2 separate regions of the Homo sapiens genome follow, and region 1 is linked to region 2. Evidence: fine-mapped expression QTL. A gene starts in region 2. The other region holds a variant in brackets. All regions are shown on one strand. Distances are between the middles of the regions. Region 1 overlaps TCF25 (TCF25 ribosome quality control complex subunit). Region 2 holds the start of TCF25 (TCF25 ribosome quality control complex subunit).

Region 1 (14,617 bases), 25 kb after region 2:
CAGCTGGTATCTGAGCTGGGCAGGTGGGGCAGCATGGAAAAGGCATGGAGCTGCTGTTACCTCAGAGATGGTTGGTTTCTTAAGTTGAGTGATGGGCATGTGGATATTAGTACGTTGTTCTCTTTCTTTTCGTTTTCTTTTTTTATTTTCCTCTTGAGACAGGGCCTTGCTCTGTCGTCCAGGCTGGAGTGCTGGGATCACAGGTGCAGGCCATCACGCCAGGCTAATTTTTAAAACCCTTTGTAGAAATGGGGTTTTGCTGTCTTGCCCAGGCCAGTCTCGAACTCCTGGGTTCAAGAAATTCTCCCATCTTGGCCTCTCAAAGTGCTGGGATTACAGGTGTGAGCCCCCGTGCCCAGCCAGAATTGTTTCTTTCTCTCTATGGGGCCCTCCCTGCTGCACCCGTCCCACAGCAGTTGCTGACGCTTGTTTGCATCCTGTCCTTAATGCGTCCCCACCCTGCCCCACATGCCTTCTCTGCCCCTCAGTTTTGCTTCCACAGCCCGTGCAGGGATCAGGCAGCCAAGCCTTGGTCCCCACACGCCACAGGAAGTAAAGCTGTACCTGTGTCCCGTTCTCCCCAGGCCACGGCAGAGACAACGTGTGTACCCCAAGTGCACATGGCTGACCACCCCTAAAAGCACCTGGCCCCGCTACAGCAAACCAGGTGAGGGTCTGCAGATGCTGCTGGGGATGGAGGGTTGGGGGGCGTTGTCTGTGCACTGGCCCCGGTACAGCAAACCAGGTGAGGGTCTGCAGAGGCTGCTGGGGGTGGAGGGCGGCGGGGGGGTGTGTTCTGTGCACTGGCCTGCGCTGGGCACCAGGGGCGTCAGTGCCTCTTGAGCCGAGACTCTTTGCTCCAGGAGCGCTCCAGGAGTGTGCAGTGTGTGACTGTTTGTTGCCACACTGAGGGCCTGAGTGCTGGAGGCCTGGCCCAGTACCTCAACACGGAGCCTCCCAGGCACAGTCTTTGTGTGACTGTCTTTTAACGCAGGTTCTTCCTACCATTCTGCCATCGACCTTTCCCTTATGGAAGCAATCGAGTTCATTTTAAACTGCAATATTTTGTATATTATTGCAAACTAATAAGTGATTTTAAGATGAATTGCAACAGTGAAGACAGGCATGGAGTGTTGGGTGCTTGGTTGTGTGGTGTGGGGAAGTGTCAGGAGGCCTTCCACACTGGCCTCCACTCTGCAGTGGCTGAACTGTGGGGGCCCTCAGGGGCCAGGGCAAGGACAGCTTGTGGGAAGGGAGCTGTGTGGTGCCCTTGGTGATCGGCATGGCTGCTGCTGTCAGCGCTGCCATGGCTCCCACGGCCGCTTCTCCTGCGCCTGTGTCTGTGGGGGTGCCGGAGATTGCCTGCATACATTCTGTAAGGACACATCTAGGAGCGAGGCCTGTGCTGTCAGAAGGTGAACCCCGCTGCTCACGGCCCCTTCCCTTCCTGGCAGGAACCCCTGCTCACTGCAGACAGGGGTTCCATGGCCATGTATTCCTGCAGGACTGGGGCCTTGGGCAGGGCCATCAAGAAGGTATCACTACAGGGGACCTAGTCCATGGAGGTCCTGGGAGGCTGAGCTTTCCAGGTTTATCAGAAGAAACTGGGTCCCATACACCCAGTCAGACAAGAGGAGCCAAGTGAGAGGGTGGTCACACGTTACAAAGCTCTGTGGCTTCAGAGGCCTGGCGCTGTGGCCACCTGTGCCACCGCACTCCAACCCTGTCCTTCCACAGCCACCCCGGACATTCTCCTCAATCAGACGTGGTCTGGGGACAGTGCTCGGCGTGGTCAGATCTGGCGATCTGTGGACTGTGTGTGTCCTTGTCCCTGACATTCCCTCCAGGCCAGTGGGGCTAGAGCTGTATCCGAGTTCTGGAGGCAAACACGTCTTGATAGGAAACTAAAGCAGACGGGATGCCGTCTCCTGGTGTAGACCAGACGGCGGGTGTTTTGGGAAGGTGTCCGGAGCTGGTGACACCCATGAGTACACACTCAGGTCAAGTTTGTCGATATCGCAGAGGCCTCATCCAGAACACCACGAAGGTGAGGGCTGTGCTCGGAGCTGCCCACGTCCCTGCTCCCGGCACACCCTCCCTGAGCACTCTCCCCTCCCAGGTCTGTCCATGCGGCTGCTGGAATCAAAAAAAGGCCTCTCCTTCTTTGCGTTTGAGCACAGTGAGGAGTACCAGCAGGCTCAGCACAAGTTCCTGGTGGCCGTGGAGTCTATGGAGCCGAACAACATCGTGGTGCGTGGTCCCTGCAGCCCCTGACAGGAGCAGGGGCCATGTAGCCACCACTGCCCTGGGCCGCCTGCTTCCCTGGTGGCTGGGGGAGGCATGCTGCCTCCTGCCCTTCCCAACAGGAAGGGTGCCAGTCTCTGCAGGGCGGTCTGGCCCTGTGACCAGAAGGAGATGTGTTCGGAGGCTCTAGGCCAAGCGAGCTCCATCCATACTCAGAGGAGAGGCTGGAGCGCTGCTCTCTCAGCCGTTCCTGGGGACCGTCGCAGTAGTGCCGTGTGATGCAGGCCCAGGACTCTGGGGCTTCTCACTGCTGCCCTTGCCTCCTGCGGCTCAGTGCAGGCGAGCAGCTCAGATTCCCGGCCCCCGTGCAGCCCCCGGACGGCCCCCACACGGCCCCGGACGGCCCCCGCGCAGCCCCAGACAGCCCCGGACCTGGACAGTCCCCGTACAGCCCCGGTGCAACCCTGGACAGCCCTCATGCAGCCCCTGGACAGCTCCCCTTGCAGCCCCGGACGGCCCCCGCGCAGCCCCAGACAGCCCCCGGGCGGCCCTCACGCAGCCGCCGGACAGCTCCCCTTGCAACCCCGGACAGCCTCCGCAGAGCTCCCCGTCATCTCCCTGTGGGAAAAGCAGGCTGCTGCTTTCCATTCCTCTTTCTTGGGGCTTAGTGGGGAGTTAGGTGGCCCCTGGCCTGGGCATGTCAGGTTCTGAGTTCTTGCTTTAAGTCATATAATTGGTTCAGCTTAGCAATAATAACTAGCCTATTTTGAGTTGGGGGGACGTTGTGAGTGTCGACCCGGTAATTCCCCCGTTTTTGTTTTTGTTTTTGGAGTCGGAATCTCACTCTGTCGCCTAAGCTAGAGTGCATTGGCGCAGTCTCGGCCCGGGTTCAAGCGATTCGCCTGCCTCAGCCTTCCGAGTAACTGGAATTACAGGCACACGCCACCACACCCGGCTAATTTTTGTATTTTTATTAGAGACCAGGTTTTGCCACGTTGGCCAGGCTGGTCTTGAACTCCTGATATCAAGTGATCCTCCTGCCTCAGCCTCCCAAAGTGGTGGGATTACAGGCGTGAGCCACTGCGCCCAGCCTCCGCTGGTTTTAAATGTCTGAAAAAAAGGCATGCCTGGGAGCTGGGGCCTTGCTGAGTGCCTTTCCTCCAGGGCTGTCCTCCCTTCTGGTAGGTTCTGCTCCAGACGAGCCCTTACCACGTTGACTCACTCCTGCAGCTCAGCGATGCCTGCCGCTTTCAAGAGGATCAGGAGATGGCTCGAGACCTCGTAGGTAAGGCAGAGCCCCCACCCCATTCCCCTCAGCTGTGGGAGCACCTCAAGCTATCAAGACAGATGCGATGGTGTAAGATGACAGGGGTTGCCAGGATATCCATGACAGCTTTATTGAGATACAACCTACGTAGCACAAAACTTACCCATTTAAAGTTTTTGTTTGTTGGTGTTTAATATATGCCACAGCCTCCCGAGTAGCTGGGACTACAGGCGCCCGCCACCAGACCTGGCTAATTTTTTGTATTTTTAGTAGAGATGGGGTTTCACCGTGTTGGCCAGGATGGTCTCGATCTCCTGACCTTGTGATCCACCCACCTCAGCCTCCCAAAGTGCTGGGATTACAGGCATGAGCCACCACGCCCCGCCCTCTGGCTTTTATTTACAATGAAGTTTTCAAGGTTCATCCTCACTGTAGCGTCGATCAGAACGTCGTTCGTTTTTATGGCTTAGTAATACTCCACTGTGTGGACGGACCACATGTTGTGTATCCATCATTAGTTGACGGCCGTGTGGGCTGTTGTAAATAATAGTGCTTACGTCAGCATGCACACGCAGTCTTAGGTGGACACATCTGTGCTGCACACATGGACGCCTGGTTCTGTCAGGACGTGGCAGCAGTTGTGCCTCATGGTGTTGAAAGTGTTACCATGTCAAGCTCACAAGTTCTGTGGTTGAAATAAATGCAGCGTGGCATCCAGGGTGCCCAGGGGCATGTCTGCCCTCTCAGTGTCCAGGACTCTAGTTTCGTGACCTTCCGTCCAGACCTTTCCTTGTTGTCCATTATCAGAGGAGGGGCCGTGGTTGCTGTGTGTGGCCATGACACCCTCCCCTGGCGTCCCTGTGCCCACAGAGAGAGCGCTGTACAGCATGGAATGTGCGTTCCACCCCCTGTTCAGTCTCACCAGTGGGGCCTGCCGGCTGGATTACCGCAGACCCGAGAACAGGTGAGTGCAGCTGCCCTGGAGGTGACGCAGCTCCCCTTCCCTTCTCCTGCGAGTGAGGCTGGGGGAGGTGCAGTGGGCACCTCATGGCTGCCCTCCAGGGTGGACCAGGGCCCACAGGTCCAGAGTGACCCACCTTCCTCTCTCTGGGCTTAAGGATAGAGGGATGGGATTGTCTCAGCCCAGGTTTACCTTTGTCTGTGGACATGCCTGATGCTACTGTGGAGGTCAGAGTGGGAGGTCTGCTGAGCCCAGGAGTTCAAGTCCAGCCTGGGCACCATAGTGAGACCCCCATCTCTTAAAAAAATAAAAATAAAAATAAATGTTTGTGTTAGAAGTGAGCCTGGCTGGGCACAGTGGTTCACGCCTGTAATCCCAGCACTTTGGGAGGCCGAGGTGGGAGGGTTGCTTGAGCCCAGGTGTCAAGACCAGTCTGAGCACCGTGGCAACATGCAGTCTCAAAACAGCATTTTTTTTTTTTTTTTTTTTTTGAGACGGAGTCTCACTCTGTCACCCAGGCCGGAGTGCAGGGGCGCGATCTCGGCTCACTGCAAGCTCCACCTCCCGGGTTCAAGCCATTCTCCTGCCTCAGGCTCCCGAGTAGCTGGGCCTACAGGCACGTGCCACAACGCCTGGCTAATTTTTTGTATTTTCTAGTAGAGACGAGGTTTCACTGTGTTGGCCAGGATGGTCTCCATCTCCTGACCTTGCGATCCACCCGCCTCGGCCTTCCAAAATGCTGGGATTACAGGCGTGAGCCACCGCGCCCGGCCACTACAGAACATTTTAAAAACTAGCTGCGCCTGGTGGCGCGTGCCTGTGGTCCCAGCTACTTGGGAGGTTGAGGCGAGAGTATCACTCAAGTGAGCCCAGGAGGTCGAGGCTGCAGTGAGCTGAGATGGTACCAGTGCACTCCAGCCTGGGCAGCAGAGTGAGACCTTGTCTCTCAAAAAAAAAAAAAGAAGAAGAAGAAGAAGTGAGCCTGAGAAACCAGATCTCCACAGTGGGCTCTGCAATTGCATTTCCTTCTATGTTTGGCTGAGAAAACCCATCCCTGGCAAGTTTAGAAGCTTTGGAAGGCTTTGCAGGTTTGACCTTAAATCAGTGAGGAGCTCAGAGTCAGCCTGACCCTCGCTCCCCTGTGCTGAGCGACCGCATGTGGAGGTCTCTCTTCTTTCAGATACTTCTGCCCCTAAAGCCATCCCTCTGGCATCAGGCCTCGCTGGTCAGACCTAGACTGGCTTCCGCCAGGCCTTCCCGCAGCCTGTCCTGTGGGCCCTTTGTGGAGCAGACCAGCTTCTGTCCGCTGTCCTGCCTCTCCTGTGTGCAGTGCCCTGTTTCTCTGGCCGCCCTGGGTTGTCTGCAGTGTGGGATCCGCTCCTACCCTCTCAGCCCTCCTGGCAAGCCAAGGTCCGCTGACCCGTTCTGCACAGATTGTCTGCACTGTGTGCTGGGTCTGAATTTCCTCCACTGGTTTTCTTTATGTTAGTTTTGTCTCTTCCAATGAAATTCTTAGTTCTTTGAAGTAGATTATAAAATATTAATATTTCCCGACGCGAAAGAGACAGTGGGCTGTTGATGGAAGTAGCAGCCCACCAGCATCCGAAAGTCACAGGGCTCCATGTATCCAGCCTGAGTGCTGTTAGCCACTGTTGAGATTGGAGGATAAATTAAGATCGTAATTGTAACAAGAGATTTTAACTCTCTTCCTGTAAATGATAAATAATAAACAAAAAAACAAGATAAAGATTTCAGCGGGGCGTGGTGGCTCACGCTTGTAATCTCAGCACTTTGGGAGACCGAGGCAGGTGGATCACAAGATCAGGAGATCGAGACCACGGTGAAACCCCGTCTCTACTAAAAATACAAAAAATCAGCTGGGTGTGGTGGCGGGTGCCTGTAGTCTCAGCTACTTGGAGAGGCTGAGGCAGGAGAATGGCATGAACCCAGGAGGCGGAGCTTGCA[A/G]TGAGCCGAGCCGAGATAGCGCCACTGCACTCCAGCCTGGGTGACAGAGCGAGACTCCGTCTCAAAAAAAAAAAAAAGATTTCAAAGAAGTTTGATTTTCAGTATGCAAATTCGTGTATAACTCTGTAAAGGACAAGGAGAGCGCACACCTCCTCTCCAGACATGGATCTCTGTGTGCTGGGCACGTAGAAAATGCCAGCAGAACCCAGAGAGCAGAATGGGGGTGGAGCGGGTGCTGACCGGGGCGCTAAGCAGTGTGTGGGGTGGAGCGGGTGCTGACTGGGGCGCTGAGCAGTGTGTGGGGTGGAGCGGGTGTTGACTGGGGCGCTGAGCAGTGTGTGGGGTGGAGCGGGTGTTGACTGGGGCGCTGAGCAGTGTGTGGGGTGGAATGGGTGGTACTGGCCAGGACGCTGAGCAGAGGGCGGGGTGGAGTGGGTGCTGGCCGGGGCGCTGAGCAGAGAGCATTCTCCTTTGTGTCGTTGTAATTCATGTGGAACTATTTTGGATCTAGGAGCTTCTACCTGGCCCTCTACAAGCAGATGAGCTTCCTGGAGAAGCGAGGCTGCCCGCGCACGGCGCTGGAGTACTGCAAGCTCATCCTGAGGTGAGTGTCTGCTCAGGGCCAAGCCCGTCCACGCTCCCTGTCCTGGCTGCAGGCCCACTCTCAGCCTGACGATGCCCCTGTTCCCCTTTGCTCTGCTCTCTGTGCTGCCTCCGGAAGTCTCGAGCCGGATGAGGACCCCCTCTGCATGCTGCTGCTCATCGACCACCTGGCCTTGCGGGCCCGGAACTACGAGTACCTGATCCGCCTCTTCCAGGAGTGGGAGGTGGGTGCGAGCCTGGTGAGGCCCCGTGGAGGGACGGACACCTGCTTCTCCTTCTGTTTTCTTGGTTCAGTATCTGTGCGCTCAGGGGACGTTTGGGGATGAAACGATAATCGTCTGAGGGCAGAACCACGTCCTCCTGCCTTGTTTGTCTCCCTTGCCGCCTCTACGGAGTGGAATGTGGTTTTCCTAGGGACAGTACAGCAGCCTTATGTCAGAATCCTCATACGTGTGTACACATGCTCAAACGTGTGTACACATGCACACGTGTGCCTGCAAGGACTGTGATGCTGGTAATGATGAAAAACCGACAACTCCCGAGCTCCTCATGGGCAGTTCAGGAAGATGCAGCCGGGAGGTAGAAGGAGGGTTGGTTGCGTGGGGCTGACACAGGGACCCCCAGCACGTCTGTCCTGTTCCATGGGAAGAGTGTGAGTACAGCAGGAGAGACTTGAGCTCTGTCCCCAGTAACTCTAACACAGACACGTGTTGGAATGATAATTTCGGTGTATTGGGTTAGATATAACGTATTAATCTCACCTGTTTTGTCTTTAATGCAGCTCCCAGAAAATTTAAATTGGGCCGGGCATGGTGGCTCACGCCTGTAATCCCAGCACTTTGGGAGGCCGAGGCGGGCGGATCACCTGAGGTCAGGAGTTTGATACCAGCCTCAACATGGAGAAACCCTGTCTCTACTAAAAATACAAAATTAGCTGGGCGTGGTGGTGCATGCCTGTAATCCCAGCTACTCGGGAGGCTGAGGCAGGAGAATCGCTTGAACCTGGGAGGTGGAGGTTGCGGTGAGCCGAGATCGCGCCATTGCACTCCAGTCTGGGCAACCAGAGTGAAACTCCGTCTCAAAAAAAAAAAAAGAAAATTTAAATTGACACCTGGGCTCCCATTATGTTCCTATGGGGCAGCACTTATCTGGAAGGACACGGGCTTTGTAACGCTAACCTCCAGCAGGGCCTGGGGCTGGGGAGAAGGCGACAGCTCTTGACTTTCTCTGCTTCTGTGTTGAATTTTTTTCATAGCACATGTTCATGGATAATGAAAGTGGGTAAATTATTTTGAATTTTTAAGCATTTGGCATAGTTGGCCAGGAAGTCTCACCCCCAGGAATGTGGTTTATAGAAATTCCTGGAGCTCACAAAAATGTAGGTGCAGGGAAACCTCAGGGAGTCCCCCAAAATGGGGCTGCAGAAGAATGTTGATGATGGTGTTTAAGGTCACAAAACTGTGAGTCTGTGATCCCATTTTGATAGAAAAAAATGCAGTGAGTCACATGTCTACAATATGTGACATAGGCTGAGAAAGGCAAGAGAAACTGGCACGGTGGTAGACTGCTCGGAAACTCGCGTGGCGGGCTGCTCTCGGAAACTCGCGCGGCAGTGGGCTGCTCTCACAGACTCGCGCGGGGGTGGGCTGCTCTCGTCTGTAAATTTTCCACATTGAGAGCACCAACTGCTCAGCTTCAGAGAGGAGCCTGGGCGGCAGGTGGGACCCTCACTCCCCACGGTGTCCTCGCTCCGGCTCAGTCTACTTCTCAGGCCCTCCCACGTCCTCTGTATCTTCTGCATGCGGAAAGCCCCCCAGGTGGACGTTTTAAGTTATCTTTATGCTGAGTTAGGAAGAGGCCCTTGCGTTGCCTGCAGAATATACCTGCTCGGGGTAGGGCTCACTGGTGATGTCAGAGCGTCTGCAAACTCACATATTTTGTCTTTATGACTTAAGGCTCCACGCTCTGTTTCTTCGTCCCTCGTAGGCTCATCGGAACCTGTCCCAGCTCCCTAATTTTGCCTTCTCTGTTCCACTGGCGTATTTCCTGCTGAGCCAGCAGACAGACCTCCCTGAGTGTGAGCAGAGCTCTGCCAGGCAGAAGGCCTCTCTCCTGATACAGCAGGCGCTCACCATGTTCCCTGGAGGTGAGTGAGCGCTGTGTCTCGCCTGGGGTAGGGGTGTGTCCTGTCAGCCGTGGGGGCTGCTCTTCCTGGTGGTGGAGGCCAGGTCCCAGTCCTTCCCCACACTTGTAGAAACATGCATTCTCTGGTAGGGCCTGCAAACCTGCCCTACCAAACCTGAAAGAGGGTCGGCTCATCTCGGAACCCGCTGCGTGCCAAGCCAGGCACGAGGAGGTGGCAGGCATCCCGACCCCCGTGGGGCCTGTGTTCTAGAGTGCAGAGACAGAACTGGCTGGGAGGTGCGGGGCATTGGATTGTACCAGTGCTGGGGAGGAGAGCAAAGCAGGGGAAGGTCTCGGCAGCGCCGAGGTGTGGCCGAGAGGGTTGTGCTCTGCACCATGCTGGGATGCAGAATGGAGGCCTGTGCCGCCCAGATGGACTCAGCCTGCACAGCCGTGACCCCTGACTGCATCTGGGTAGCTTCGATCCACGCACATGTGGCGGGCACAGTGAGGCTGCCACCTGGTCAGACCTCGGGGCTGACCCTGCCTGACAGCATGTGTGAAATCCCTCTTTAAGATGGGCCTCCTCCGAGGAGCTGTGAGGGGTGAGGGTGAAATCCCTCCTTAAGACGAGCCTCCTCTGAGGGGCTGTGAGGGGTGAGGGTGAAATCCCTCCTTAAGACGGGCCTCCGGCCGGGCGCGGTGGCTCACGCCTGTAATCCTAGCACTTTGGGAGGCCGAGGTGGGCGGATCACGAGGTCAGGAGATCGAGACCATCCTGACTAACACGGTGAAACCACGTCTCTACTAAAAATACAAAAAATTAGCCGGGCGTGTTGGCGGGCACCTGTAGTCCCAGCTACTTGGGAGGCTGAGGCAGGAGAATGGCATGAACCCAGGAGGCAGAGCTTGCAGTGAGCCGAGATCGCGCCACTGCACTCCAGCCTGGGCAACATAGTGAGACTCCGTCTCAAAAAAAAAGAAAAAAAAAAAAAAGACGGGCCTCCTCCGAGGGGCTGTGAGGGGTGAGGGTGAAATCCCTCCTTAAGACGGGCCTCCTCCGAGGGGCTGTGAGGGGTGAGGGTGAAATCCCTCCTTAAGATGGGCCTCCTCCGAGGGGCTGTGAGGGGTGAGGGTGAAATCCCTCCTTAAGACGGGCCTCCGGCCGGGCGCGGTGGCTCACGCCTGTAATCCTAGCACTTTGGGAGGCCGAGGTGGGCGGATCACGAGGTCAGGAGATCGAGACCATCCTGACTAACACGGTGAAACCACGTCTCTACTAAAAATACAAAAAATTAGCCGGGCGTGTTGGCGGGCACCTGTAGTCCCAGCTACTTGGGAGGCTGAGGCAGGAGAATGGCATGAACCCAGGAGGCAGAGCTTGCAGTGAGCCGAGATCGCGCCACTGCACTCCAGCCTGGGCAACATAGTGAGACTCCGTCTCAAAAAAAAAGAAAAAAAAAAAAAAGACGGGCCTCCTCCGAGGGGCTGTGAGGGGTGAGGGTGAAATCCCTCCTTAAGACGGGCCTCCTCCGAGGGGCTGTGAGGGGTGAGGGTGAAATCCCTCCTTAAGATGGGCCTCCTCCGAGGGGCTGTGAGGGGTGAGGGTGAAATCCCTCCTTAAGACGGGCCTCCGGCCGGGCGCGGTGGCTCACGCCTGTAATCCTAGCACTTTGGGAGGCCGAGGTGGGCGGATCACGAGGTCAGGAGATCGAGACCATCCTGACTAACACGGTGAAACCACGTCTCTACTAAAAATACAAAAAATTAGCCGGGCGTGTTGGCCGGCACCTGTAGTCCCAGCTACTTGGGAGGCTGAGGCAGGAGAATGGCATGAACCCAGGAGGCAGAGCTTGCAGTGAGCCGAGATCGCGCCACTGCACTCCAGCCTGGGCAACATAGCGAGACTCCGTCTCAAAAAAAAAGAAAAAAAAAAAAAGACGGGCCTCCTCCGAGGGGCTGTGAGGGGTGAGGGTGAAATCCCTCCTTAAGACGGGCCTCCTCCGAGGGGCGGTGAGGGGTGAGGGTTATTTGCGTGCAGCTAGTATACACACATTACGTGACCACTCATCGCCTATTAGGATGTCCTGGAAGCAGCATCCCTTTCTCGGTTCTGTGGGTTTCCAGGGCTCTGTCTGGGCCCCGAGGAGGCCCACGGCGTGGGGTTGGGCAGCTTCTAGCACAGGCAGAAACGTGCCCCCCAGAGGGGCCTGGCCAGGCCTCAGTCTGCTCGCTGACCCCAAAAGTTTCGTCCCCTGTGTCTAAGAAGCACCTTTGTCCTCCTCTGGGGCTGCATGCAGCTGGCCATATGCTCCACCAGTGCAGCCGTGTCTGGAAACGCGGCTGGGAGGCCCTGTCCTTTGTGGCAGAGCTGTGCTGCTGTGTCACAGGCTGTAGCGTCAGCACCTCCCTTGAAGGCAGGTGGGCTGCCAAGAAGCCGCTGCCACTTACCCCAGAACACTGGAGATCACTGCAGGCTCTGCCCTCGGGGCCCGTTCCCCTACATGGCGGCCTCTGCCCTCAACCTGCAGTGCTGGCTCTTCCACTGGGCACAGGTGGCCTCCGCTCCCACCAGCCTGCCATGGGGTCCAGTCTTTGTGATTAAAACATCCAACCGGCCGGGCACGGTGGCTCACGCCTGTAATCCCAGCACTTTGGGAGGCCGAGGCAGGAGGATCGCTTGAGCATAGGAGTTCGAGACCAGCCTGGTCAACACGGTGAAACCCTTTCTCTACCAAAAATATAAAAATTAGCCGGGTGTGGTGGCGGACGCCTGTAATCCCAGCACTTTCGGAGGCTGAGGCAGGTGGATCACCTGAGGTCAAGAGTTCAAGACCAGCCTGGCCAGCATGGTGAAACCCTGTCTCTACTAAACATACAAAAATTAACCGGGGCGTGGTAGTGTGCGCCTGTGATCCCAGCTACTCGGGAGGCTGAGGCAGGAGAATCGCTTGAGCCTGGGAGGTGGAGGTTGCAGTGAGCCGAGATTTCGCCAACGCACTCCAGCCTGAGCAACAGAGTGAGACCCTGTCTCAGAAAAACAAAAAAAAACCCAACCCCATGTGTGTGGAGGGTGGTGGGTGAGTCTTCCCTTGGATGCAAATGGGGGCCCTGGCAGCCTCCTTGGGGCTGGTGTGAAGGAGACCCCCAGCCTCAGACCCTGGGCACGCCAGCAGCAGCAACTCAGAATACCACCCGGAAGCAAGCCGCTGGCCCTGCAGACTCTCCACCTTAGAACAGCTGTGTCTGTGACAAGGACCTCGCTGTGTCCCTTACTGCCTTGGGGGCTAGGAGTGGCTGGGGTGTGTGCTGAGGGCCCCCACAGAGCCTCCGCTTCCCCTGCAGTCCTCCTGCCCCTGCTCGAGTCTTGCAGTGTGCGGCCCGACGCCAGCGTTTCCAGTCACCGCTTCTTTGGACCCAATGCTGAAATAAGGTAAAGAGTGGCTGGTGGTGCCCATCTGTGGGTGCCTGTGGGTTCGGAGCCTGGGAGCCATTTTCACTCATCCTGAGAGGCCCTGAGGGACCTGCTTCCAGCAGCAGGAGGGGCTGTGGTGGCGGCCTCGGGGACTGTCATTTGACATGGGACGGCTCTGGAGCCCTCATCTGTGTGGAAAAGTCCAGGTGGGACAGCTGAGCAGCCTCCAGCTTAAAAACGAGGCTCATATAAAGAGGGTGCCAGGCGTGGCGGCACATGCCTGTAATCTCAGCTTTTTGGGAGGCCGGCTTGTGCCTGGGAGGTCAAAGGTACAGTGAGCTGTGTTTGTGCTGCTGCACTCCAGCCTGGGTGATGGTGAGACCCCGTCTCAAAAAACAAAATAAACAAAGAGGGAGCAAACACAGGAGAAAGTGCACGCCTTGGGGTCATCCCCTGGCCCTCCAGGGCTCGCCCTGTGTGCACGCAGATGGACCCGCCCTGGGTGCATTTTCACATTTCTGTGACGTCAGTCCTGCTTCCTAAAGAACATAACCTGCCCAACAGGCTCACGGCACATACCTGTGTGCCCCAGCCCCACGCCCTCAGGCCAGCAGCCCAGGGGCCTCCTTTCACTCCAGGCCACAGGGCACTCCCTGGACCCCCCGTCTGCCCATCCATGGGGCTCTGCCAGCCTCGAGGCAGGCTGTGGTCTGAAGAGGGGTTCTGCTCAGAGCCCTTGCTCTCCCCCAGCCAGCCCCCTGCCCTGAGCCAGCTGGTGAACCTGTACCTTGGGAGGTCACACTTTCTCTGGAAAGAGCCCGCCACCATGAGCTGGCTGGAGGAGAACGTCCACGAGGTTCTGCAAGCAGTGGACGCCGGGGACCCAGCCGTGGAAGCCTGTGAGAACCGGTGAGCTAGGGGTTGACACAAGCCCTGCCACGCCCCCTCCTCAGGGACCCTCATCCCAGACACGGGGGCCTCGCATTCGGGAGGCGAGAAGGGCTGTGAGCAGCTTGGCCTCCCTTGCTGTGGGGCCTGTGTGGAGCCTACAAGACAGCGCACAGCCCCTGGCGTGTCCCAGAGGCTTCCTGGGAGGCAGCTGTGGTGATCAGCGCAGGGTACCGAGCTGCTGTTCCCGGGTGCCTCGGGCTGGAGTGGTGCCTTCGGGTCTTGCAGTGTTTCCACATGAGCTGTGAGATGATGACGAGTCTCTCACAGCAGCATCTTGGGAGTAAAGAAATCTGGCAGAGACGAGAAAGAGTCTCCTGTCCTGTGTGTGAACACTTCGGAGGCTCATGCCCTAATATGCTGCAACTGACAGGCATCCCCTTGCTGTTCTTGTCTCGTTTGTCTGCGCCCTTGGCCCTGTGCTAGTTCTGTGCATCAGCACCGTGGCTCTGTGCAGTGGTGTGGCCAGGCTCAGGACCGCCTGGGAGTGGTGCCCATTTGCATCTCCACAGTGAAGTCTGTGTGCCGCGGACATGAGGTGTGCCCGGGGGTGCCCAAGAGGCGCTGGTGCCCCCAGCCGCTGGCAGTCATGGGCCCGTCCGCGTGTCTGCTGTCCCCACTGGACTGGACATTCTCATGGACAGGAGCATTTTGTTCCCTGTACTGCTCTCCAAGAGCGATTTCCAGCAGGGACCAGTGCCTGTGCCTGTAGCCGTAGCAGTGACGATGGTGACACACCCAGGTGTCCCTTCATGGAGATGAACTCAGTGACTTCCCACAAGAAGCCACTGGCTACGGCTCTCATCGTTCTTGTTCTTTGGATGAAGAGGCTGAGTCACTGGCCATGTGGCTGGGATTGGTCCCCAGAGGCTCCCCAGCCGCAGGCCAGGGACCAGCCATGGTGCCTCTGCTCGAGAGTAAAGTGTACAGTTTTTGCAGCCACCAGAGATGCAGCGAGATGCCTCGTGCTGGGTGGGGGTGGGGGCCGAGGCTCCATGGCGGTTACCATTTCATTTGCTGTGCTTTATCTGCTGTGCCTTGTTTCTCCCCGGCCCTAGGCGGAAGGTGCTCTACCAGCGTGCACCCAGGA
Region 2 (14,617 bases):
ATTTGTTTGCATTTCTAGTAGAGACGGGGTTTCACCATGTTAGCCAGGATGGTCTCGATCTCCTGACCTCGTGATCTGCCCATCTCGGTCTCCCAAAGTGCTGGGATTACAGGCTTGAGCCACCGCGCCCAGCCTTGAATTTTTTATAAGAAGGTATTTATTTTTGAAATCAGATATGGGAATTAAAACAAAATTGAATCACTGTTTAAAACTGAGCATCTCAGTTGAGGCCCCTCTAGCTTCCATGGTGCTTTTATGGTGAGTAGTGTCAGGTACACACCAATGTCTACACGTCTTCTTAGAAGGAATCTTAGATGTCTTTCCAAGACAGTGTGCAAGTTTTTTTTTTGTTTTTTGTTGTTGTTGTTGTTTGCTTTTTGTTTTTTTTGAGACAGAGTCTCTCTCTGTCACCCAGGCTGCGGTGCAGTGCCATGATCTCGGCTCACTGCAACTTCCGCCTCCTGGGTTCAAGCAATTCTCTGCCTCAGCCTCCCGAGTAGCTGGGATTACAGGTGCCCGCCACCATGCCCGGCTAATTTTTTGTATTTTTAGTAGAGACGGGGTTTCACCATCTTGGCCAGGCCGATGTTGAACACCTGACCTCGTGATCCACCTGCCTTGGCCTCCCAAAGTGCTGGGATTACAGGCGTGAGGCATCGCGCCTGGCCGACAGTGTGCAGTTTTTAAAGACCCTTGTAGGTTTTTGTTTTTAAACTTTCCAAAAGTATGTGACCCATCATGGCTTGGTTCAGAAAGACCCATCATGCCTTGGTTCAGAAACAAAAATCTGCTTAAGAGGGACTTTTACCACCATTTTTTTTTTTTTTTGAGACAGAGTTTCGCTCAGTCCCCCAGGCTGGAGTGCAGTGGCGTGATCTCAGCTCACTGCAACCTCCACTTCCCAGGTTCATGCCATTCTCCTATCTCAGCCCCCCAAGTAGCTGTGATTACAGGTGCCTGCTGCCACGCCCAACTCATTTTTGTATTTTTAGTAGAAACGAGGTTTCACCTTGTTGGTCAGGCTTGTCTCAAACCCCTGACCTCAGGTGATCCACTTGCCTTGGCCTCCCAAAGTGCTGGGATTACAGGCGTAAGCTACCACATCTGGCCCACCACCACTATGTTTAAACCTTACTCTATATCCTACCACTTGGCAATAGAAAACTTGGCAGGAGAAAACTCCTGGAGCCATCCTTCCTGAGAGAATGCCAAGGAGCACATATATTTTGGGTGGATACCTAAGTATAAAGAAAAGCAAGATTTTGGAGTAAAATAAAGTACTGAAGTAACCAAGCATCAGGCAGAAGGCAAGGATGGTTTGACCTCGGATGCGTGGAGGCCGGGATGCGACTGTTTCTCAGCTGTTTGTGGGCTTCCTCCCTGCTGATGCTGCATTTCCTCTGTTCCCTTCCAGAGCCGTCTGCACTTCCTGTAGCATAAAGGTGAGGACCATGTGGGATCTCTGGGGTCTGAGCAAGGCAGATGAGGGGCTCCACTGGCTTTGATTGGATGTGTTGGATGATGCTGCCTCACCAGGCACCTCATCCATTTCCTTTCAGGCAGAATCCATTCCTATACTTTCCAAGATAGTGTGCAGTTTTTAAAGACCCTTACAGGTTTTTGTTTTTAAACATTGCACGTTAGTAGCCTCGTGCCAAAAAACCCTTCACTTCCCCTCTAAAAGTCCTACCTTCTTACATTCTATAACTTTTTGGGTGTTTTAGGAGGGGCTTCTTATTGCAGTTGAGGTGTGTGCTTATGTGCAGGTGCACAGAGGTAAAGGGATCCTAACATTTAAAAGTATGTCAGCTGGGCACGGTGGCTCACACCTGTAATCCCAGCATTTTGGGAGGCCAGTGAGGCTGGCGGACCACTTGAGACCAGCCTGGCCAACATGGTGAAACCCCATCTCTACTAAAAATACAAAAAAATTAGCTGGGCATGGTGGCACGCACCTGTAATCCTAGCTACTCAGGAGGCTGAGGCATGAGAATTACTTGAACCCGGGAGGTGGAGGCCACAGTGAGCTATGATTGTGCCACTGCACTACAGCCTGGGTGACAGAGACTCCGTCTCAAAAAGACAAAATACAAATAAAAGTATGTCACCAGCCAGGCGCGGTGGCTCATGCCTGCAGTTCCTGCACTTTGGGAGGCTGAGGTGGGAGGATCTCTTGAGCCCAGCAAATTCAAGGCTGCAGTGAGTATGGCTGTGCCTCTGTACTCCAGCCTGGGCAATAGAGCAAGATCTGTGTCTTAAAAAAAAAAAAAAAAAAAAAAATATATATATATATATATATATGTTACCCCTCAGGCCTCAGTTCAGAAGCAAAACTCTGCTTAAGGAGTACTCTTACTACCACTATTTTTAAATCTTACTCTACATCCTGCCACTTGGCAATGGAAAAACTTCCACCTCATCCATGTTAAATGTTGATTATGTGCAGGGTAAGGTGGCAGGTCCCGTATAGTATAAAAAGGGAAAGTTCTTGCCCTCTAAGGAGCCCCTGTCCAGATGAGCAGGAAACGTGGCAGGTCCCGCATGGTATAAAAAGGGACGGTTCTTGCGCTCTAAGAAGCCCCTGTCCAGATGTGCAGCAAGCAGGAACCCCGTGCCAGTCTTCAGCCAAAAGGCACAGAGGAGACATCGGAGAGCACAGGGACAGAGAATATTCTCCAGGAAGCCCTGGCTGCCACGCAGGTCCCAGACTGGGGAGGGAGGTCCCCTAGCACTGAGTGTACCTGAATGTCTCTGGTGGTGCCTGGTTCATACCTCCTCCCTCTGTGCTGCAGATGAAGATGCCTTCTAAGAAATTTGGACACATCCCTGTCTACACACTGGGCTTTGAGAGTCCTCAGAGGGTATCAGCTGCCAAAACCGCGCCAATCCAGAGAAGAGACATCTTTCAGTGCGTTCTTCGCCTTGCTGCTGATGTCACTGTGGTGGTCGGGCGTGAAGAGGAACTTGGGAGCTGGGGTGGAGGGGGCTGGCTTTGTCTGTTTGCTAGGACACCCCAAGGAAATGGAAATGCAAGGCAGAGACGGATCGTTGTGTAGGGCTCTGGGAGGCTGAGCAGTATGAGATGGAAACTGGACTTGGGTGGTCAGGGAACAGTCTGCTGAGATGAACACTGCTAGCTGTGTTTGTTGCCTGAGGGCCAAGGGGAGGCCTAGGGTGAAAGGCAGCCAGGAGGGGGCTGTGGCATGCACAAGCAGGGAGGGGGGTGTGGCACCCTGGCTGGCTCCTCTCCCTGAGTGCCCTCTCCCACTTCCCAGGTCTCTGCAAGGGCCACAGTGGCAGAGCGTGGAGGAGGCGTTCCCCCACATCTACTCCCACGGCTGTGTCCTGAAGGATGTCTGCAGTGAGTGCACCAGCTTTGTGGCAGACGTGGTGCGTTCCAGCCGCAAGAGCGTGGACGTCCTCAACACTACGCCACGACGCAGTCGCCAGACCCAATCCCTCTACATCCCTAACACCAGGACTCTTGACTTCAAGTGACAGCCCCAGGTGGCCAGGCCTCCAGGAGGCACCAGGCAGGCCCTGTATCAGGCTAGGACGCTCTGAGCTGTGCATGTACATATATACATATATAGATACATTTATAATATATACACACAGTCTATATATTTATATACACTGTTTCCTGGCCCCAGAGCTCATTTGGGTTCAGGCGCACTTCAAAACCCTCCCTGGGGGAGGCTGTTTCTTCTCAGGATTCCTTGCCAGGGAGGAAGGGGAGGGAACAGGGTGGGTTTTCTCACTGAAGAGAGAAAGCAGAAGGTTCTAGATCCTGGCACAGACTGCATCCCATGTTCCCATGCTCTTCTCCGTCCCCAGGAATGCGAACGGCAGTTTCCCTTCCCCAGTGGACGTCTAGGTGGGGACAGGGTATCTTGGCTCCCAGCTGGACCAGAGTGCCCTGCTTGCCTCTGCTCTCCCTTTGTGGGGACTCAGGCAGCAGAGGCATCTGGGAAGTCTCTGAGTAGGCAGGGTCCTCCTGGGAGGCACCCCCACCTGTTTGAAAGGTCTGGCCAGGCGTGGTGGTTCAGGCCTGTAATTCCAGCACTTTGGGAGGCCGAGGAGGGAGGATCACCTGAGGTCAGGAGTTTGAGACCAGCCTGGCCAACATGATGAAATGTTGTCTCTACTGAAAATGCAAAAATTAGCCAGGTATAGTGGCAGGAACCTGTAATCCCAGCTACAGGGGAGGCTGAGGCAGGAGAATCGCTTGAACCCGGGAGGTGTAGGTTGCAGTGAGCCGAGATTGCACCACTGCACTCCAGCCTGGGCGACAGAGCGAGACTCTGTCTCGAAAAAAAAAAAGGTCCGTGCCAAGCTGCTCCCTGCCCTTGCCCTTTCCCTTTCCCTGGGGTCCAAACCACATGTGTCCTGCCTCTCCTGGCCCTACCACATTCTGGTGCTGTCCTCACTCGCCCCTGGCCCAGAGGCTCCTGAAGATGCTGGGCGGTCCTGGCACAGGGAGGAGCAGCTCTGTAAATCTGTGCACATGGCCACTCTTGGCCTAATAAAGGAGGTCTCACAGTCTTCTGTCTGGGATGTGCGCTGAGGATTCACCCAGCATGGCATGTTCTCCCAAGGTTGAAGCTGGGCTTGAGGGGCCACCTGCCTTCCAGGACGAGGAAAGGCCTCCTGGCTTAGAGTCAGGTGCCCACCAGGCAAGGGCTCCAGGCCTGCTCTGTCCACGCAGCCCTGGCTGCCTCTACCAGCTTCGTGGTCCTGGCCACCATGGTCAGGGCTGCATGCGGACGGCACAGACTACTGCCCATCAGCTCCTCTGGCCACACCTGCTGGCCTGGGGGGTACTTTGGTCTCATTTCCCAGATCCGTATTCTCGTTCTCCAGGGAGAGGATCCACAGGGGCAGGAGGTGTGACTGCAGGCTCTAGACAGGCCCTGTGCCGAGTGCTGTCTGCTCACCTGCGCCCGGCTCAGCCTGTTAACGGGGCCCTGCCCTGCTCCTCCGTGACGTTCTGCCGTCATCTTACCTTACAGATGAGGGAACTGAGGCTCAACGAGGTCAAAGAATTTGGCCAAAGATACACAGCTCACCCAGAACTTTGACTCCAGGCTGTAATGCTAGCCGTGGGGCCTGGAGGTCAGAAGGGACAGGACTTGTAACTGATGGGCCTGCGGGAGAAAATACTCCTGTCAGCTGGGGTCCAGGAAATCCAAACACACAAAATTAGAGCCCCCAGTAAAAACAGCCAGCTTCTAGCATGCGTGTAAGCATTTCACGGACTCTCTGGCCTGTATTTTTATTCCTGTTTAAAAATAAGAAAACAGGCACAGAGAGGGTCAGGGAACTCCTCCGGTCACACAGCCAGCAATAAGCTAATGTGTAGTGCTTGGTAAGGACGACGGTTGTTCTGGTTCTACGGGGACTCACACTCCCTATCATGGGGAGACTGGGTTGTAATTCATACAGGAACACTTGGAAATGAAAGCCCACGTTAAAACCCTAAACCACGGCAGGTGCAGTGGCTCACACCTGTAATCCCAGCACTTTTGGAGGGTGAGGTGGGCAGATCACTTGAGGTCAGGAGTTCGAGACCAGCCTGGCCAACATGGTGAAACCCCATCTCTACTGAGTACAAAAATTAGCCGGGCATGGTGGCACATGCCTGTAGTCCCAGCTACTCGGGAGGCTGAGACAGGAGAAGTGCTTGAGCCTGGGAGATGGAGGTTGCAGTGAGCCGAGATTGCGCCACTGCACTCCAGCCTGGGCAACAGAGCAAGACCTCATCTCACAAAATAAAATAAAACCCTAACCCATCCTGGGAGGGGCCAGGCCGGCTCACCAGGGCTGCTGCTTGTGCTCATGAAGCCGCAGTAAGTCGGGCAGGAGGCTGCTGGCACCTGTCTTCTCTATGCCCTCCTGTCCCCATGTCCCCAACCCCAGGCACAGGAAGCTGTGCCCTCCGCCCACTGAACCCAGCACTGTCTCAGCCTCATCTACTTTATTTTTTTCATTTTTTTGAGACAGGGTCTGGCTCTGTCGCCCAGGCTGGAGTGCAGTGGCGCGATCTCGGCTCACTGCAGCCTCAGCCTCCCGAGTAGCTGGGATTACAGGCGTGCGCAGCCACGCCCAGCTAATTTTTGTATTTTTAGTAGAGGGAGTTTCACCGTGTTGCCCAACCTGGTCTCGAATTCCCGACCTCAGGTGATTCGCCCACCTTGGCCTCCCAAAGTGCTGGGATTACAAGCGTGAGCACCGCGCCCGGCCCTTAGATCGTGACAAACGCGGGCGGCCTGTCCTAGAACTGTCAGAACCACTGTCCCTAAAGAGGCCTCGGGCGGGCAGTAAGGGCCGCGTCACTCAATGCTGCTCGAGGGGCGGCGGCTCCAGGGCAGAGGCGGGCATCGACGGCTAGATCACTCGAATGACACCCTGACACGAAAAGGACCAACTAGCAACGTCCGGGACGCAGCTGAAATGCTGCAGGCACGGTGCGGGGACAGGCCCCGGCGGGCAGAACGCGGCTGCGGGTTCCGGGCCACATGGATGGGCAAGGCCGGGCAGGGCCGACTGTCGCCGGCTGCGCGCCCGTTACCCCGAATCGAAGCCCGTCATCCCCGCGGGGCACCTCTCCATGCCCGGTGCGCACGGCGCGCAGACACCCAGCTCTCCAGAGACCTGGCCCGGACCCCCCGGAGCCCGCCCAGACGCCGCCGCTGAAGCGGGAAAGTTCCGGAGAGCCGCGACGCGCAGGCGCCGCAGCCAGGTCCTGCCCCCACCCCTCGCGCCAAGAGTGCGCAGGCGCGCAGCCAGCTCCCCCGCCCCCGACCCCGCGCGAAGAGTGCGCAGGCGCGCCGACAGCCGAGTTTTCTGCGCTTCCTTCTCCCTCTCTCCAGACGTCGTGGTCGTTCGGTCCTATGTCGCGCCGGGCCCTCCGGAGGCTGAGGGGGGAACAGCGCGGCCAGGAGCCCCTCGGGCCCGGCGCCTTGCATTTCGATCTCCGTGATGACGATGACGCGGAAGAAGAAGGGCCCAAGCGGGAGCTTGGTGTCCGGCGTCCCGGGGGCGCAGGGAAGGAGGGCGTCCGAGTCAACAACCGCTTCGAGCTGGTGAGGAGCGCGGCGGCCCGGGTGGGGGTGGGGTGGCCCTTGACGTTGTGGGGCGGGGCGAGCGTCCAGCCGGGTCGGGGAGCGGGGTTGTGATGCCAGGGGTGGGAAGGGTGACGTGGGTCCCAGCCGCAGTGGGGAGGGCGGGGCCGTGCGTCGGGGCCAGGGCGACGCGGGTGGGCGGTGGCGTGGGGTGAAGACGGCGGGCCGCGGAGTTAGACTGGGTTCTAACCCCGGTGAGGTGGGCGGGGCTAAGGGATGGGGCGGGGCCGTGCTGTCGGGGCGGGGCGACCGAATGGGCGGGGTTAAGCGGGGTCCGGGTTGTGGAGGGTGCGGGGCCTTGATGCCAAGGGCGTGGCCAACGTCCGCGGGGCCGGGCCACGACGTGGGCGGGATTAAATGGGCCTGCGGCCACGTGGCTGTCGTGGGGCCGTGACGCTAAAGGGCGTGGCTAAAGACGGGGGGGTGGCGAGGCGATGGCGTGGGCGGGGTTAAATGAGGCCTGGGGCCACCGTGGGGGTGGGGCCACGGCGTAGGGGCAGGAGTCGGGTGGGGCTTCCCTTTCTCGAGTCTAGAGGGGCCTTCTCTCGGTTCCAGGGTTGAGGACTTGCCAGGCCTCTGCGAGCATTCTGCTTTAATCCTCACAACAACTCTGCCTAACCCAGGGCCTTGCTCTTCGCGCATCCCCATCAGCCTAACCCAGCGGATTAGTCTTACTCTTTGCTGCATCTCCGGCAGCTCGTTTCTGGCACAGGGAAGTAACAGTTTGACTGTATGGTTTGCTCATGCGGTCCTGTGACGTTTTCTCCTAAGCCCTGGCCTCCGTCTGTAACTCTGCCTCTGCGGGCTCTGCGATCCTCCCACCTCAGCCTCCTGAGTATCTAGGACTACAGGTGGATGTCACCACGCCCGGCTAATTTTTTTTTTTTTTCTTTTTTGTAGAGAAGAGTTTTCGCCTTGTTGCCCAGGCTGGTCTAGAACTTCTGCGCTCAAACAATCTGTCCACCTCAGCCTCACAAAGTGCTGGGACTACAGGCGTGAGTCACCATGCTTGGTTGACTGCCCTTCTCGCATCAAGTCCACCTTTAGTGGTCCCCAAGACCCCCGTCAAGGTTCAGTAATTTGCTAGATTCACAGCAGTTACTGAAAGCTTTTTGTTTTGAGATGGAATCTTGCTCTGTTGCCCAGGCTGGAGTGCATTGGCACAATCCTAGCTCACTGCAACCTTGAACTCCTGGGCTCAAATAGTCCTCTCACCTTGGCCTCTCAGAGTGTTGGCATTAGAGGCATGAGCCACTGTGCTTGGCCCCGTAAGTCTTTTTAAATTTTTGTCAATGTAATTTGTGAAAAATGATATCACATTATTTTATTTTACACTTCTTTGGTAGTGAAATGCAGCACCTAGCTATGTATTCGTTGACCATTTATATTTCTCTTTGTGACAACCTGTTTATATCTTTGCCTTTTTATAGGGGGTTTGGACAGTCTTTTTGCTCGTGGAAGCTTGCTATCGATTGTCTCTAACGTATTTTCTCGGTTTGTGTTTGTTCTTTAACTTCTTTAATTTCTGCGTGCTGAAAGATACTGGAGCCACTTTTCTCATTGTTACACATCCATCTCTCTAGAGTGTCTTCACATAGATATTCCCTGACGTGAGTTTTTTTTTTTTTTTTTTTTTTTTTTTGAGATGGAGTCTCGCTCTGTCGCCCAGGCTGGAGTGCAGTGGCATGATCTCGGCTCACTGCAAGCTCCGCCTCCTGGGTTCACGCCATTCTCCTGCCTCAGCCTCCCAAGTAGCTGGGAACACAGGCGCCCGCCACCACGCCTGGCTAATTTTTTGTATTTTTAGTAGAGATGGGGTTTCACCATGTTAGCCAGGATGGTCTCGATCTCCTGACCTCGTGATCCGCCTGCCTCGGCCTCCCAAAGTGCTGGGATTACAGGCGTGAGCCACTGCGCCTGGCTTTTTTTTTTTTTTTTTTTTTTTTTTTTGGTTACAGACAGGGTCTCACGGTGTTGCCCAGGCTGGTTGCTGGTCTTGAACTCCTGGGTTCAGGTTATCCTCCTGCCTCAGCCTCCTGAGCAGCTGGGACTACAGCATACCCTACCATGCTCAGCTTGTTCTTTTAATGCTTTTTTTTTCCCATTTAAATATTTAATCTTTTTGGTATTTATATTTGTGTTGGTGGGAATTTGGAAAAAGTGTGGTTCATGAGTTGACAGAGTAAGAGTCTGTAAGGTCAGAAACCACACAAACCCTTGTGGACTTTCTGGAGTGAGTTTGAGTGTCAGTAACACTAACAGCCTCCATGGATGAATGACTGCTTATCGTGCTGTGTTCTTAGGAATTTCAGAGAATTTTATCCAGTGGCACACATCAGTCTTAATTTAAGCATTCCATACTTTTTTGCTCTTAAAACTCATATTTGGAAATAATATAATCAAAATGTTTATTGGCATTCTGTTAAATAGCTCTTAATAAACAGAAGTATGGGAGACAGTAAACAGCCAGTTACGACTAAATGGTTATGAATGTGAATGCATTGGTGAGAGACATGGTGTTTCTCTTTTTAAAAAATTTTATTTATTTAGAGACAAGATCTCTTTATGTTGCCTAGGTTGGTCTTAAACTCCTGGGCTCAAGAGATCCTTCCGCCTTGGCCTCCCAAAGTGCTGGAATTGCAGCTCCCAGTACTTTGGGAGGTGGGCAGATCACCTGAGGTCAGGAGTTCGAGAGCAGCCTGGCCAACATGGTGAAACCCCATCTCTACTAAGAATACAAAAATTGGGCCAGGCGTGGTGGCACATGCCTGTATTCCCAGCACTTTGGGAGGCCGACGTGGGCGGATCATGAGGTCAGGAGATCCAGACCATCCTGGCTAACACGGTGAAACCCCGCCTCTACTAAAGAAGTACAAAAAAATTAGCCGGGTGTGGCGGCGGGAGCCTATAGTCCCAGCTACTCAGGAGGCTGAGGCAGGAGAATGGCGTGAACCCAGGAGGCGGAGCTTGCAGTGAGCTGAGATCGTGCCACTGCACTCCAGCCTGGGCAACAGAGCGAGACTCCATCTAAAAAAAAAAAAAAAAAAAAAAAAATTGGCCAGGCATGGTGGTGGGTGCCTGTAATCCCAGCTACTTGGGAGGCTGAGGCAGGAGAATTGCTTGAACCCAGGAGGTGGAGGTTGCAATGAACTGAGATTGTGCCACCAGGCTCCAGCCCGGGCAATACAGCGAGACTCTGTCTCAAAAAAATAAATAAATAAATAAATAAATAAATCGTAATAATAATTATGGATTTGTCTATTTCTACTTTCAACCCTGTCAGTTTTTGCTGTGTGTGGGTGTGTGTGTGTTTTGGTTTTTTGGAGACAGAGTCTCGCTCTATTGCCCAGGCTGGAGTTCAATGTCACAATTATAACTCACTGTAATCTTGAACTCCTGGGCTCAAACCATCCTCCCACCTCAGCCTCCCAAGTAGGTGGAACTATAAGTGGGTGTCACCACACCTGGCTAATTTTTTCAATTTTTTTTGAAAGCCAGTGTGCTGGGATTATAGATGTGAGCTACCATGCCTGGCCTAGAATCTTTTCTGAACTGATTGGTAATGAAAATAGCAACCTATCAAAATTTGTGGGATGCAACTGAAACGATGATTAGAACTTTATCATCGTAAATTTTAAATTAGAAAAGTGTTTAAAAATCTAGAAATTTACCTGAAACTTCTACCTTAAACTAGAAAAAGAGCAAATTAAACTCAAAATGTGTCGAAGGAAGAAACTAATCAAAGAGGGGAATGCACAGAATAGAGTATGGACACGATGGAGAGAATCGGTGAGACCGAAACTTGGTTCTCTCAAAAGACGAGTTGGCAAAAACTCTAGATTGACTGATGGAGGGAAAAAGGGAAGGTCCAGGTACGTTACCATTTTCAGGGATGGGAGAGGAGTGTTCACAGGTACAGATGGTGCAGATAGTAACGGGCGATAAGGAACTTCTTGCTAATAAATTTTCCAGATTAGACAAATGGGCAAGTTCCTTTAAAGATAAAACTTATCTAAATTGACATGTGAAGAAATAAAAAAATCTGAGCCCTTTTATCTATTAAAGATACTGAATTTTTTAAAGTATAAAACATTCCAGGCTAGGGTTGGTGGCTGACACCTGTAATCCCATCACTTTGGGAGGTCAAGGCAGATCCATCACTTGAGCTCAGGTGTGTGAGACCAGCCTGGGCAATGTGGCAAAACCCCATCTCTACAAACAATACAAAAAAACTGTCCAAGTATAGTGGCACTCACCTGTGGTCACAGCTACTCGGGAGGCTGAGACGGGAGGATGGCTTGAACCCAGGAGGTCGAGGCTGCAGTGAGGTGAGATGACGCCACCGTACTCCAGCCTGGGTGACAAAGTGAGACCCTGTCTCAAAAAAAAAAAAAAGACAACCTCAGGCTGGGTGCGGTGGCTCATGCCGGTAATCCCAGCACTGTGGGAGGCCAAGGCGGGTGGACCACCTGAGGTCAGGAGTTCGAGACCAGCCTGGCCGACATGGTGAAACTCCGTCTCTATTAAAAATCACCATTTTTTTTTTTTTTTTTTTTTTTTAGGAAAAATGGACATTTTCCTCTCCCCCTAAAAAAAGATAAAACTCCTTCCTGGTTATTAACTGAAATGCTGATCGAGCTTTATCCTAAAGAAGATCAGTCGTGGACAAGAACCTTGTGAAATGTTCCCCATTTGAGACCCTAAAACTAATGAAAATCACAGCTTTTGGGTAGGTAATAAGGTGTTTTGTTTTGTTTTTTGAGACGGAGTCTTGCGCTGTCGCCCAGGCTGGAGTGCAGTGGCACCATCTCAGCTCACTGCAAGCTCTGCCTCCTGGATTCACTCCATTGTCCAGCCTCAGCCTCCTGAGTAGCTGGGACTACAGGCGCCCACCACCACGCCCGGCAAGTTTTTTTGTATTTTTAGTAGAGACGGGGTTTCACCGTGTTAGCGAGGATGGTCTTGATCTCCTGACCTCGCCATCTGCCCACCTCTGCCTCCCAAAGTGCTGGGATTACAGGCGTGAGCCACCGCGCCCAGCCAGTAATAAGGTTTGTCTGACGGTGATTGACAGCATTTTAGAGCTGATGCATGGCAGTAGAGATTGCAGCAAATCATGTGTCATCACCAAAACTTCACTGAAGAAGCAAAACTAGGCCTGTCACCCGTGCTGTCTGTGTACACAGATGGGCTTCAGAGCCTGTCACACGTGTTGTCCGTGTACACAGATGGGCTTCGGGGCCTGTCATACGTGCTGTTCGTGTACACAGACGGGCTCCTGGGCCTATCACCCGTGCTGTCCGTGTACACAGATGGGCTTCGGGGCCTGTCACACGTGTTGTCCGTGTGCACAGATGGGCTTCGGGGCCTGTCACACGTGTTGTCCGTGTACACAGACGGGCTTCAGAGCCTGTCACACGTGCTGTTCGTGTACACAGACGGGCTCCTGGGCCTGTCACACGTGCTGTCCGTGTACACAGATGGGCTTCGGAGCCTGTCACACGTGTTGTCCGTGTACACAGATGGGCTTCGGGGCCTGTCACACGTGTTGTCCGTGTACACAGATGGGCTTCGGGGCCTGTCACACGTGTTGTCCGTGTGCACAGATGGGCTTCGGGGCCTGTCACACGTGTTGTCCGTGTGCACAGATGGGCTTCGGGGCCTGTCACACGTGTTGTCCGTGTGCACAGATGGGCTTCGGGGCCTGTCACACGTGTTGTCCGTGTGCACAGATGGGCTTCGGGGCCTGTCACACGTGTTGTCCGTGTGCACAGATGGGCTTCGGGGCCTGTCACACGTGTTGTCCGTGTGCACAGATGGGCTTCGGGGCCTGTCACACGTGTTGTCCGTGTGCACAGATGGGCTTCGGGGCCTGTCACACGTGTTGTCCGTGTGCACAGATGGGCTTCGGGGCCTGTCACACGTGTTGTCCGTGTGCACAGATGGGCTTCGGGGCCTGTCACACGTGTTGTCCGTGTGCACAGATGGGCTTCGGAGCCTGTCACACGTGTTGTCCGTGTACACAGACAGGCTCCTGGGCCTATCATGTGTGCTGTCTTTGTAAACAGTCAGGATCCCAGGACTATCACGCGTGCTGTCCATGTACACAGGCAGGCTCCTGAGCCCATCACACGTGCTGTCCGTGTACACAGATGGGCTTCAGAGCCTGTCACACGTGTTGTCCATGTACACAGACAGGCTCCCGGGCCTATCATGTGTGCTGTCTGTGTACACAGGCAGGCTCCTGAGCCCATCACGCGTGCTGTCCGTGTACACAGGCTCCTTTCCATTGAAGTTCAGCTTGGCATAGAGCTTTTTATGAATTCGATTTGTCAAACACCTCAAAATAAGAATTTTTTTTCTTAGGAAGTCAGCATGAGTTAATAAAAGTAAATTGGGTGTTGGCCGGGCGCGGTGGCTCACGCCTGTAATCCCAGCACTTTGGGAGTCTGAGGCGGGCAGATCACCTGAGGTCAGGAGTTCGAGACCAGCCTGGCCAACATGATGAAACCCCATCTGTACTAAAAATACAAAAATTAGCCTGGCATGGCGGCACATGCCTGTAGTCCCAGTTACTCGGGAGGCTGAGGCAGGAGAATCACTTGAATCCGGGAGGCGGAGGTTGCAGTGAGCCAAGATCATGCGATTGCTCTCCAGCCTGGGCAACAGAGCAAGACTCCATCTCAAAAAAAGAAAAAAAAAAAAGTAAATTGGGTGTTGTGGCGTGTGCCTGTAGTCCCAGCTCCTGGGGAGGCTGAGGCAGGAGGATCCCTTGACCACAGGAATTTGAGGCCAGCCTGGGCAACACAGTGAGACCCTATCTCTAAAAACAGACAAGTAAACCAGCACCCAGCTTCACTAAGAGACATCATCATTAGTTGAATGTTGGAGATGGTGTAGATCCAATTTACCAGTGACCACCCACAGGTTAGAAACATTTCAACAATAGGCTTTGTTTCAGCTTTCTTCCTTTACTGCAGGGTGCAAGGCAGCCGGCCCATGCCTAGGCCCCAGCTTCGCCAGCAAAGGCCAGGCAGAAGGAGGCATCACCATGAGAATCACCATCATGGTGCTGCTGGGATGGGACAAACCTCGTTTTGGTGGAGTGTCAGTGTTTTCAAGTTAGGGGCTCTGTTTACATAACACGTCTATACTGCCATGGATTTTCTCAACGGGCGTAAGTTGCTCCTGACTTGTCTCAGCGGGCGTTTAAGATGCTCCTGAATCGTATCCTTGTCATGTGGGAGCCTCCATTGGAGAGAAAGCCGACTGACCGGCAAGCACAGACCTGCCCTGTGCTTTCTTCTCTTCAGCAACCGCAGCCGGGGTGTCTGTCTTCCCAGGTGCAGCCGAGTCTCAATTCTGTTTCAGAAACTATCTCAGGGCTATGGGGCTTGGAGCTGATTGTGTTTTCTGAGGTTTGTGGTTTTCAAGATGTTTTAAATTAAACAGGCAGTTTTATTTATTTTTGAACCTTAGTGCATCCGATTGGA

Evidence for each region. PIP is the estimated chance that this variant, and not a neighbour inherited with it, causes the effect.
Region 1: its variant is fine-mapped to the expression of TCF25 in whole blood (TOPMed, PIP 0.95).

What each region holds. Positions count from the first base shown.
Region 1 is chr16:89,891,609-89,906,225 of GRCh38, forward strand. It overlaps TCF25 (TCF25 ribosome quality control complex subunit), which reads left to right. Exons shown (of 18, transcript NM_014972.3): 6 at 585-667; 7 at 2,120-2,250; 8 at 3,430-3,529; 9 at 4,382-4,475; 10 at 6,949-7,041; 11 at 7,159-7,264; 12 at 9,027-9,186; 13 at 12,510-12,597; 14 at 13,330-13,488; 15 at 14,586-14,617. Among named protein-coding and RNA genes, the nearest start is that of MC1R, 20 kb to the right of the region's middle. The variant A/G (reference allele first, on the strand shown) is at 6,438.
Region 2 is chr16:89,866,775-89,881,391 of GRCh38, forward strand. It overlaps TCF25 (TCF25 ribosome quality control complex subunit), which reads left to right and starts at 6,818. Exons shown (of 18, transcript NM_014972.3): 1 at 6,818-7,085. The coding sequence starts at 6,894. It overlaps SPIRE2 (spire type actin nucleation factor 2), which reads left to right. Exons shown (of 15, transcript NM_032451.2): 13 at 1,415-1,442; 14 at 2,793-2,908; 15 at 3,276-4,545. The coding sequence ends at 3,498. LOC112268179 (a long non-coding RNA gene) reads right to left here and starts at 6,714. Exons shown (of 2, transcript XR_002957933.2): 1 at 6,194-6,714; 2 at 3,603-5,147. RefSeq lists enhancers at 5,576-6,532, 6,303-6,462, 12,731-13,400 and silencers at 6,543-6,662, 7,133-7,602.